2 separate regions of the Homo sapiens genome follow, and region 1 is linked to region 2. The links come from fine-mapping of genetic effects on gene expression. A gene starts in region 2. The other region holds a variant in brackets. All regions are shown on one strand. Distances are from middle to middle. Region 1 overlaps ANKS1A (ankyrin repeat and sterile alpha motif domain containing 1A). Region 2 holds the start of TCP11 (t-complex 11).

Region 1 (4,511 bases), 59 kb after region 2:
AGATTCTGGAAGCAGCTGCTATCCCTGAGGGCGGCAGAGACCTGGACCCCTCTGACTTCCTCCCGGGGTGAGGAAGCAGCCTGGGGCCACTCTCATGCTTTGTTGCAGGTTAGAGGGAACCCCCGCCTGTGGGCTGTCAGTTCTGGTCTGCTCCCTGTGGGCAGCTGTGTGAGAATGAACTCTCCTCGGCCCAGTGGCATCCAGAGCCGAGCCTCAGCAGGAATTTGAGGGAAGAAAATCTGCCAAAGAGGGCACCACTGCCCCTAAGAGGGAAGTAGAGGGCATTTCTGGGAGGCGGCCCAGCCAGAGGTTGGAGACCTAGGGCAGGGAGCCGGGGGAAACAAAGGCCTTGCCTGACCTAAGAAAACACTCGCCAAAAAGCTGGAAAGTCAGGGGCGGTGGCTCACGCCTATTATCCAGTTACGTGGGAGGCTGAGGTGGGTAACTTGCCTGAACCCAGGAGTGCAAGGCAAGCCTGGGCAACATAGTGAGACTCCATCTCTTAAAAAAAAAAAAAAAAAGCTGGAACCTCCTGTCCCTAGTGCCCTGGGCCAGTCCCTGTTCCCTCTGCGCGTCAGTCTCATCACTGTGAAAGGGGACCGGCCTGAGTGCTGCTGGGCTCCATTCATGAACCAAACATTTGCCAGGCACTGGCCAGGGGCCAGGACAGCGCCGCATCTGTGCCCTGCAATGGGGCTGGACGCCTCAGGGCTGCAACCCAAGCCTGCCCCACCCGGCCCCAGGACCCCACCCACCACATCCACGGTGCTGAACACATGGCAATAGTGGTGGCTGGTCTGCAGGTCCTTGGTGATGTAGGCAAAGGTACAGAGGTCCTCCGGGTCCTGGGCCGCACAGGAAATGTTCCGGATCTCGTGCTCTGCAATGACGTTCTGCTGGGGAAAGCCGTGTTCTGGAATTCTCAGGCTCAGGCATGCCTCTGGCACCCCCTGCCCCAGCCTGTTACCATTGTCACTGTTCTCTGTCCCAGCCTAGAGCATCAAGCAAACCCCCCTTCATCTTCTCATTTTGTTTATTGGTGGGGGTGGGGGTCCCCGATTTTGGTTTGGGGTCTCCACCCCTTACCACAACAACTAAGGCAGTAAAATGTTCACACCCAACCACAAGCTCTCCCCAGCCCCTCCCACCTTCCAGGGTGGGGGCAAAGTGGGAAGGGTGTCAGGAAGGTGGGATCCCACACGGTGGCACACAGAGAAAGTCCTTTGCTCACGGAGGGAATCACACCTGTGAGCAGGTGTGCGGCCAGTGGAGCCCAGGTGGCGAGGCTAACAGCAGTGATCACTAGGGCGGGGACGGGGCTGACAGCAGGCACCCAGGCCAGCAGATGAGAGACACGCCTCTTAGCAAAGTGGGAAGTAATAAGAGGACTGGGGACCCTCTAGGGAGATAAGAGATGAGACAGGGCAGCCGGGTTGCTTGCCCTGGAGCCCTGTGGGTCTGACGGGGATGTGGGTCCCACTCCCACCAAGAGTCCCTGTAAGCAGCACACCTTGTTGGAGGCATCGATGAACTTGACACCTTTGTATGTGATGGACAGGATGATGGTGGGGATCTTCTTCATGTGCTCCGTAGATTTCTACAGGAAACAAGGGGTGGCCCTGTCAGTGCCCCTTCTCAGGGCTAAGCCTCCTGGGCTTCCACAGGTCCCAGCTTCCTTCCCATCCTTACATAGTGCAGCAGGGCCCAGGCAACTGCAGCTACTGCCCCCATTGCTGCCTTCTGCTGGCCAGTCCCACAGCGCCCTCCAGCCCACACAGGCACCCTACCCGCATCTTGGCACAGGCGTCTTGCGTGGATTCTGTCCCTCGCAGATCTTTGATCAGCATGGAGCCCAGATACTGTGGGGGCGAGCAGTGGCCAGGCTTAGGAAATCCTGCGTTTCCATGCAGGGGTGACCCAACCAATTTGGGACTGTCCCACAATCAAGTAGTTACCCCTCTCAATAACAACACCCCCTCTCCTGCCCCAGCTGGAGAGACCCTCCATTCAACTCCCTAGCTAAAGGATCCAGAGGCCTCCACCCCTTCGCCTTAGCTGTCAAGAGTGGCTGAGAGTGGAGAACAGCTCAAAAGCCCTGGGCCTGGCTTTGTGGAGTCCCTGCTGGGACTTGGCCGCAGGTGCCTGGCCGAGAAGGAGCAGGGAGGCCGGCCCTGCTGGGAGGGTGGGAGCAACTCACATTGGCTTCATAACCACAGGACTCGAAGATGAGTTTCTCTGGCTGGTGTTGCCAACTCTGCACTGGGGCGTAGGGGGCTGCCAGGCT[C/T]GGGGGCCGCAGGGTCAGCTTGGCCTCACGGTGCTCCTCCTGCGAAACACACGCAATTGGACACCTGCTCCTTGCTCCAGAGGAGCACATGGGCTTGCTGCCTGGCTCCAGCACACTCAAGGGTGAAGATGCCAGTGACCTTAGCAAGTTCAAGGGTCGAGTGGAGATGGCAGGGGGCAGACCAGCAATTCAAACACACTGCGGGAGAGGGGAGGTGCTAGCCACAGCAGAGGCACAGCAGGGACCCAAACCGCCTGAGAGCAGGGCTTGGGAAGGACAGTCTCTGTGGTGTCCGAGATGAGTCTCAAAGGAGATGGGAAATGACCAGAGAGGAGATGGCAGAGTCTGTGTGGGGGGCACAGGCTGCCAGGCTGTTCTGCACAAAGACCAAAGGAGAGAACAGCGCCCACGAGACCCTGGGACGCCTTGGGACCCAGCCCAGGGCCTGGGAGGGATCTTCACAGCGGGGAAGCCAGTGAAGCACCCGCCCGTGCCTAGGAATGCATTCCAAATGGATCCTTCTGGCAGCAGCTAGGGGGTGGGGGAGGCCACTGCGGTCCAGGTGAGAGATCATGGGTCCCTGTCCAGGGCACTGGTGGAAGGAATGGAGAGGAAGGAAAAGATTCAGGAAACACGGAGGCCCTCCCTTCCCAGCAGTGCGCAGAGCCTCTCAACAGCAACCGGAATTGCTGGACAATGTGTTTAAAAATCCTTTAAAACTCATGGCTGTGCTTGTAGAAAGGGAAAGGAAGTCCCCAGAGCCAGAAGTGAGAAGTGAGAGTCAGAGAAACAAGCAGGGGTGAAGCTGAAGTTCACCCGGAGGGGCCTGAGGGACACCTGCTAATCCTGTGTCTGACAGGCCAAGAAGAGGACAAAGGACAAAGCCAAGGTCCGTACAAGGAGGGAGGCAGGACAGGCAGGTCCTGAGTAAATCCAGGACCCCTGGAAATGATGCCCTGAGAAGGTGAGCCAGGAGTGTGAGACGGGCCCACCTCCGCCAGGGCTGGAGCGGGCACCGGGAGCGGAGGAGGCGTCTCCAGCGGTGCCCCCCACGGGGCTGCAGGCAGAGAACAGGAAGAACAGAATCTGGTCTGGCTGTGGTTTTGCTGAGCAGGAGGAAGAGAATGCTGCCGAGGTGAAGCTGCAGGGAAAGCAGTTCTGGGGAACAACGTGGGTAAGCAGAGAAGGAAGGGGCCAAGAAGGAGCTCAGAGGCCAGGAGAGCACAGAGGGCTCTGGGGCCAGCAGGGGAGGCAGTGCAGGACGCAAGAGGCCACAGAGAAAGAGCGGACAGGGGATCTGAACCCCTGAGGGAGGGAAGTACAGGACACAGGAGTGGCCCCAGCAGCTGACAGCTAAAGTGAGTTGTGCGGCCCGAGCTCGGCACCATGGGTGCTGGGTGGGCCTTACGCAAGGCGGCTGGGTGTGGGCGAGCAGAGCAGGCTAGTGCCTCCTGACTCTGGTGCCAGCCCAACTGTGCTCAAGTATGGGGCAGCAGGTGGTTCTGGGAGGCCCTGTCCCACCCAGAGGAATGAGGTAGAGCCTGGCTGCACCTCCACTCCCCCTGCCCCACCTGGATCCTGAAGCGCTCCGCTCGGGAGGGTGCCGCAGGGTCATGGAGACTGTCATGGCGCCTCCTGCCTGTGTCCCCTGGAGGCAGCAGCAGATCTGCCGACCGCCCAGTGCAGGAATCATTCTGACTCAGTGGGGATGACGTCTGGGAGAGCAAATCTTGGCACTGTGGAGGGAAAAATCCAGGTGGAACTTGCAACCCTCGGCCCAGTGCCCGACTACAGGTATCAGCCAGCCCCACTGGTTAGGACGGCACAGGCAGCGGCACCGGGAGAAGCAGCAGGGAGCGAAGGGGCCAACACCACAGGGGTGTCAGACAGGTGGCACCACGCAGCCACCGTCCACTAGTGTCCCCCGAGAGGGCGGGGAAGCCACTTTTGCATTTATAAAAGATTAAATCTTCTGTCCTGATCCATTGCAGGCCTCTGCACATGACCAAACAAAGCACCCCCTTGAGAAAAAATGGAGCCCTGTCAGTCAGGGCCCTAAAGCCACCGTCCCCAACAGAATACAATCCTGGCTTCTCAGTGTCTATATCTGAATGTCAGTTGTGTGTTTGGTTCCCAGAGCAAGGCTGGGCCTCCACTTTCTCATCTGTAAAAGGAGGATGAACAGGACCCACTTCACGAAGCCCCTGAGGGTTCAATGGGGTGAGAC
Region 2 (4,000 bases):
CTTACTGTGTGACTTTTGGTTACTCTCTGAAACCTCTTTGATCCCCAGCTTGTTCACCTTTCAGACAGTCCAGTATAACACCTGCCTTGCCTACTGAATGAGATTGTGTGCAGAGCATATAGATCTGCGATGTAAAAGCATTCTGTAAATCATTACAGAGAAATCAGTTATTAACTAAGACCCCAAAGGGAAGAAGTGCATATCTCTTACTTGATCTTTCTACTCCCCTCAACCTCTAACTTTTGCTTGGTTGGTTCTGATGACTATTAATGATAAAGATCATGAAATGCTGTACCTGGGCTGACCCTGGGAAAACTAATTTTGTCTTTCTCTGCTACCTCCTTTTCCTCCTGTTCTGGCTTCGGTCCCCTCCCCACTCTCCACCCTCCCCCACCCCCCTCTCACACTACCATGTGCTCCTGGACTGCTATTTCTTCCCACTGACCCTCCCAGACAATTCGAATATTAAGAGAATATTTAAACAGACAATTTAACATATATGAAAGAATTGTTAGAGGAATTTCAGACATCAGTAGGGAGTTTTACAGCAATGCAATTTTTGTGGGGGAAACGAACTGGTGTTATTCTGGAAACTTTCCCAGAAGTAAAAATGCCAAATGGAATTCCTGATTTGCATTTTTAAAGAGAAATCAATAACCCAGCCTAAATATCTCCCTATGTAATAAGGAAGCATCATATTTCATTGAACTCTTTGCTGAAGTCATCATGCAACTTCCTCCCACTTCTGGTGGTTTTAGGGTGAAGGCTGGCCTGCTTCACAGTTGGCATCCCTGAGGGAAATAGCAGGAGAGGGCGAGGAGGAGGAAGGGGTAGGTTTGGTATGGATGAGTCTGAGATGCTCTGGATAAACAGTAACTTGGCTAGGCCACTCCCCTGGTATATGCCTGGGCCTCAAGGTGGAATGGACTTTTTTTAAGCACAAATGCTTTTGGGTGTCTTTATAATTTCCCCCTCCAAACCCAAGAGTTGTGCAAGAAACATCCACACTCCACACTAACAAGGCAAAGGTTGTTTTTGTTTTTTTTTTTTTGAGACGGAGTTTTGCTCTTGTTGCCCAGTCCGGAGTGCAATGGCGTGATCTCGGCTCACCGCAACCTCTGCCTCCCAGGTTTAAGCGGTTCTCCTGCTGCAGCCTCCTGAGTAGCTGGGATTACAGGCATGAGCCACCACGCCCAGCTAATTTTGTATTTTTAGTAGAGACGGGGTTTCTCCATGTTGGTCAGGCTGGTCTCAAACTCCTGACCTCAGGTGATCCACCCGCCTCGGCTTCCCAAAGCCCTGGGATGACAGGCTCGAGCCACCGCGCCTGGCCTTGTTTTGTTTTTTTGAGACAGAGTCTCGCTCTGTTGCCCAGGCTGGAGTGCAGTGGCGCAATCTCAGCTCACTGCAACCACGGCCTCCCGGATTCAAGCAATTCTCTGCCTCAGCCTCCCGAATAGCTGGGAATGCAGGCGCCCGCCACCACGCCCGGCTAATTTTTGTATTTTTAGTAGAGTCGGGGTTTCACCATGTTGGCCAGGCTGGACTCGAACTCCTGACAGGAGATCTGCTGGACTCAGGTGTCAGCCACCGCGCCCGGATTCTTACCATAATACTTTCATCTTTTGTTTTGTTTTGTTACTGTACACTTTTATGGTAAGAAGTCATGACACAGTAATAAAGAGAGACGGGAGCAGGTGAAGAGGAAACGCTTCCTTTCTATTTTCTCAGGCAGGGGCACTCCAGGTCTTCACATCACTGCAAGGGCGACAGAGTAGACTTAGAGTCAAGAAAGGCAAGGGCTAGAGCCCAGGAGGCGGAGGGCGACAACGGGCGGAACCCCAGTGGGCAGAGCCTGGCCCCAGCCCTGGCGGCTCCTCCGCTTCTCCCACATGTGAGGAAAGAGCGCGGCCCCTGCGCCCCTGCGGCACACGCTGTGAAACAACCCTCCTGGGTGTGGCTCGGCTTCTCGGCTGTCCAAACAGCCTGAAGAAAAGCCCCATGCATGCTCTGGCCTCGTCTCAGCAGTTCCAGGCCATCCTTCTCGAGGGGCGGGAGCTGACCGGCATGAACCGGCCGCAGCGAGCCGCTCGAGGCCTGGTTGGCTTCGAGCTCAGGAGGGACGCACGAGCCTGCCGCTTCCGGCTCTGGCGGGGGGGGCACGTGCCCCGTCCCGTTGCCCCGGCGACCGCGGCGGTTTGTTCTCAGGCCCCGGCCTTTCTCACCGTGCGACGCCCCAACCCGCCGCTCCGCCGCGGTGGTACGCTCCAGGCCGCCAGGCCGCGAGGCCCACCGAGCGGACGCCAGTGGATGACCCGCGGCGGGGGAGGAGGAGGTGACGGCCTGGGAGCCGGAGGCGGGCCTGGGCCGGCGTTTCGGGCGAGGGGGGCACCTCGCCGCGAAGGAAGGGGCCTTCCCACGCTTCCCGCCCTGCGCCGGGCTTCTGTGGCTTTAGTTTCCTCGTTGCCGCCCAGCGCTCCACTTCTGTCCCACTCTCGACTTCCGCTCCTCCACGCTCCTTTGCCCCTTTCTGCCCCTCAGCACCCCCAAGACCCTGAGGCCGCTACCCCCCTTCCCGCCGCCCCCAGGGACCCCCTTGGCAATTGGGGAGGCCCCTTCCCCGACGCCAACAACACGCCTTTCTCCCTCACCCAGATACCATCAGCAAAATGCCAGACGTCAAGGAGAGTGTGCCCCCGAAATATCCTGGCGACTCAGAGGGCAGGTCCTGTAAGCCCGAAACCTCAGGACCCCCCCAGGAAGACAAGAGCGGCTCCGAGGACCCCCCTCCCTGTAGGTCCAGCTCGGCAGTCCCTGTGGCCCCCTAGGGGGTGCTTAGTGTGGGGGGTCCGCAGGCCCCCCCATCCCCCAAGTTTTCTCTCTTCACTATCCCTCTCTCGTTTGTCTTTCTCCGTTTCTCCCCCACCCGCCTTTACTTACAGGCCCGAGGGCAGAGGTCTTCAAAGAGTTTTTGGTTCTAGAGAAAGAAGTGACCCAAGCGTGATTACTTGAATCTGACAAGATTTGAGACTGAGTCGGTTCAAAGCCCTCCTTTGTATTGTATTTTGAATATGTAGGGGGGATTGGCAGATAGATCTGGGATTGATTTTAAAGAACCCAAATGATCCCAGACGGGAATTGGGTTTTCTCAGCGCTTTGCTAACTCAAGAAATAGTAGTGTCCTGGGCCCAGTCTCTAGCTCGGTTCTGTAGTGGGTGTTCTTTTGTGTTCTTGTTGGGGCACAAGGTCTTCTCCGCGCTTCGTGGTAGGTCCAGTCTCACTGGGACTCATGCTGTATTTCTCTTAATCTCCAGAGAACGTAACTAGTCATCAAACTGAGGAGCTGTCCGTGTGCAACAACTCAAGATAAAATTCTTGACTATTGAAATGCGAAAAATTAGATTGAGGCTTTGCGGCTGAATTAGATTGGTTTTTCTTGTGGCCACATGAGGTCGCTGCTGGTTAACTGAATGGCACCAAAAGGCATATTGGGGTCATTTCCAACAGCTATGAACCTGAGGTAGGATGAAAAATCCGTTTTTTTGTACACACAATTTAAGTTTTTGAGGTGTCTATTTAAATGAGTCCATATATAAAACAACTCTCAGTAAAATGAATAATCAAATTCCTTTTTAAAAAAATTTGAAATTTTGTGTATTAGGTTGACTTGGTTGTTATATTACTTGAAAATGTCTTTGTCCTTGGGATCTGGATTTTTAAAATCTATTTCGGTTAAATTTTATCTCTAATTTCTCTTTGAGCTCTCCTCATTCCTGAATTTTAGAGCTGTTTTGGAATTGCTTAGTGCTGTGTAACTTTTGAGCAACAGAAGTCTTATCAAGGCAGGCTATGAACTTTGATTTGTTGTAGTTGGAAAGTGTTTCTGTGTATATTTCCCTCCGTCCCTCAATAAGCTGCTGTAGTTCAATCCCCTTCTGAAGATTTTCTCTTAGCTCTCATTTAGCATTAGTGAATTAGCAGTGAGTCTGTTTACATATTT

The links. PIP is the estimated chance that this variant, and not a neighbour inherited with it, causes the effect.
Region 1: its variant is the best candidate, but not a certain one, in a credible set for the expression of TCP11 in lung (TOPMed, PIP 0.85).

The regions. Positions count from the first base shown.
Region 1 is chr6:35,080,503-35,085,013 of GRCh38, reverse strand. It overlaps ANKS1A (ankyrin repeat and sterile alpha motif domain containing 1A), which reads right to left. Exons shown (of 24, transcript NM_015245.3): 17 at 3,856-4,020; 18 at 2,198-2,323; 19 at 1,788-1,859; 20 at 1,511-1,597; 21 at 756-893. Among named protein-coding and RNA genes, the nearest start is that of TCP11, 59 kb to the left of the region's middle. RefSeq lists an enhancer at 3,095-3,766. The variant C/T (reference allele first, on the strand shown) is at 2,285.
Region 2 is chr6:35,139,540-35,143,539 of GRCh38, reverse strand. It overlaps TCP11 (t-complex 11), which reads left to right and starts at 2,201. Exons shown (of 10, transcript NM_001370687.1): 1 at 2,201-2,335; 2 at 2,656-2,793. The coding sequence starts at 2,670.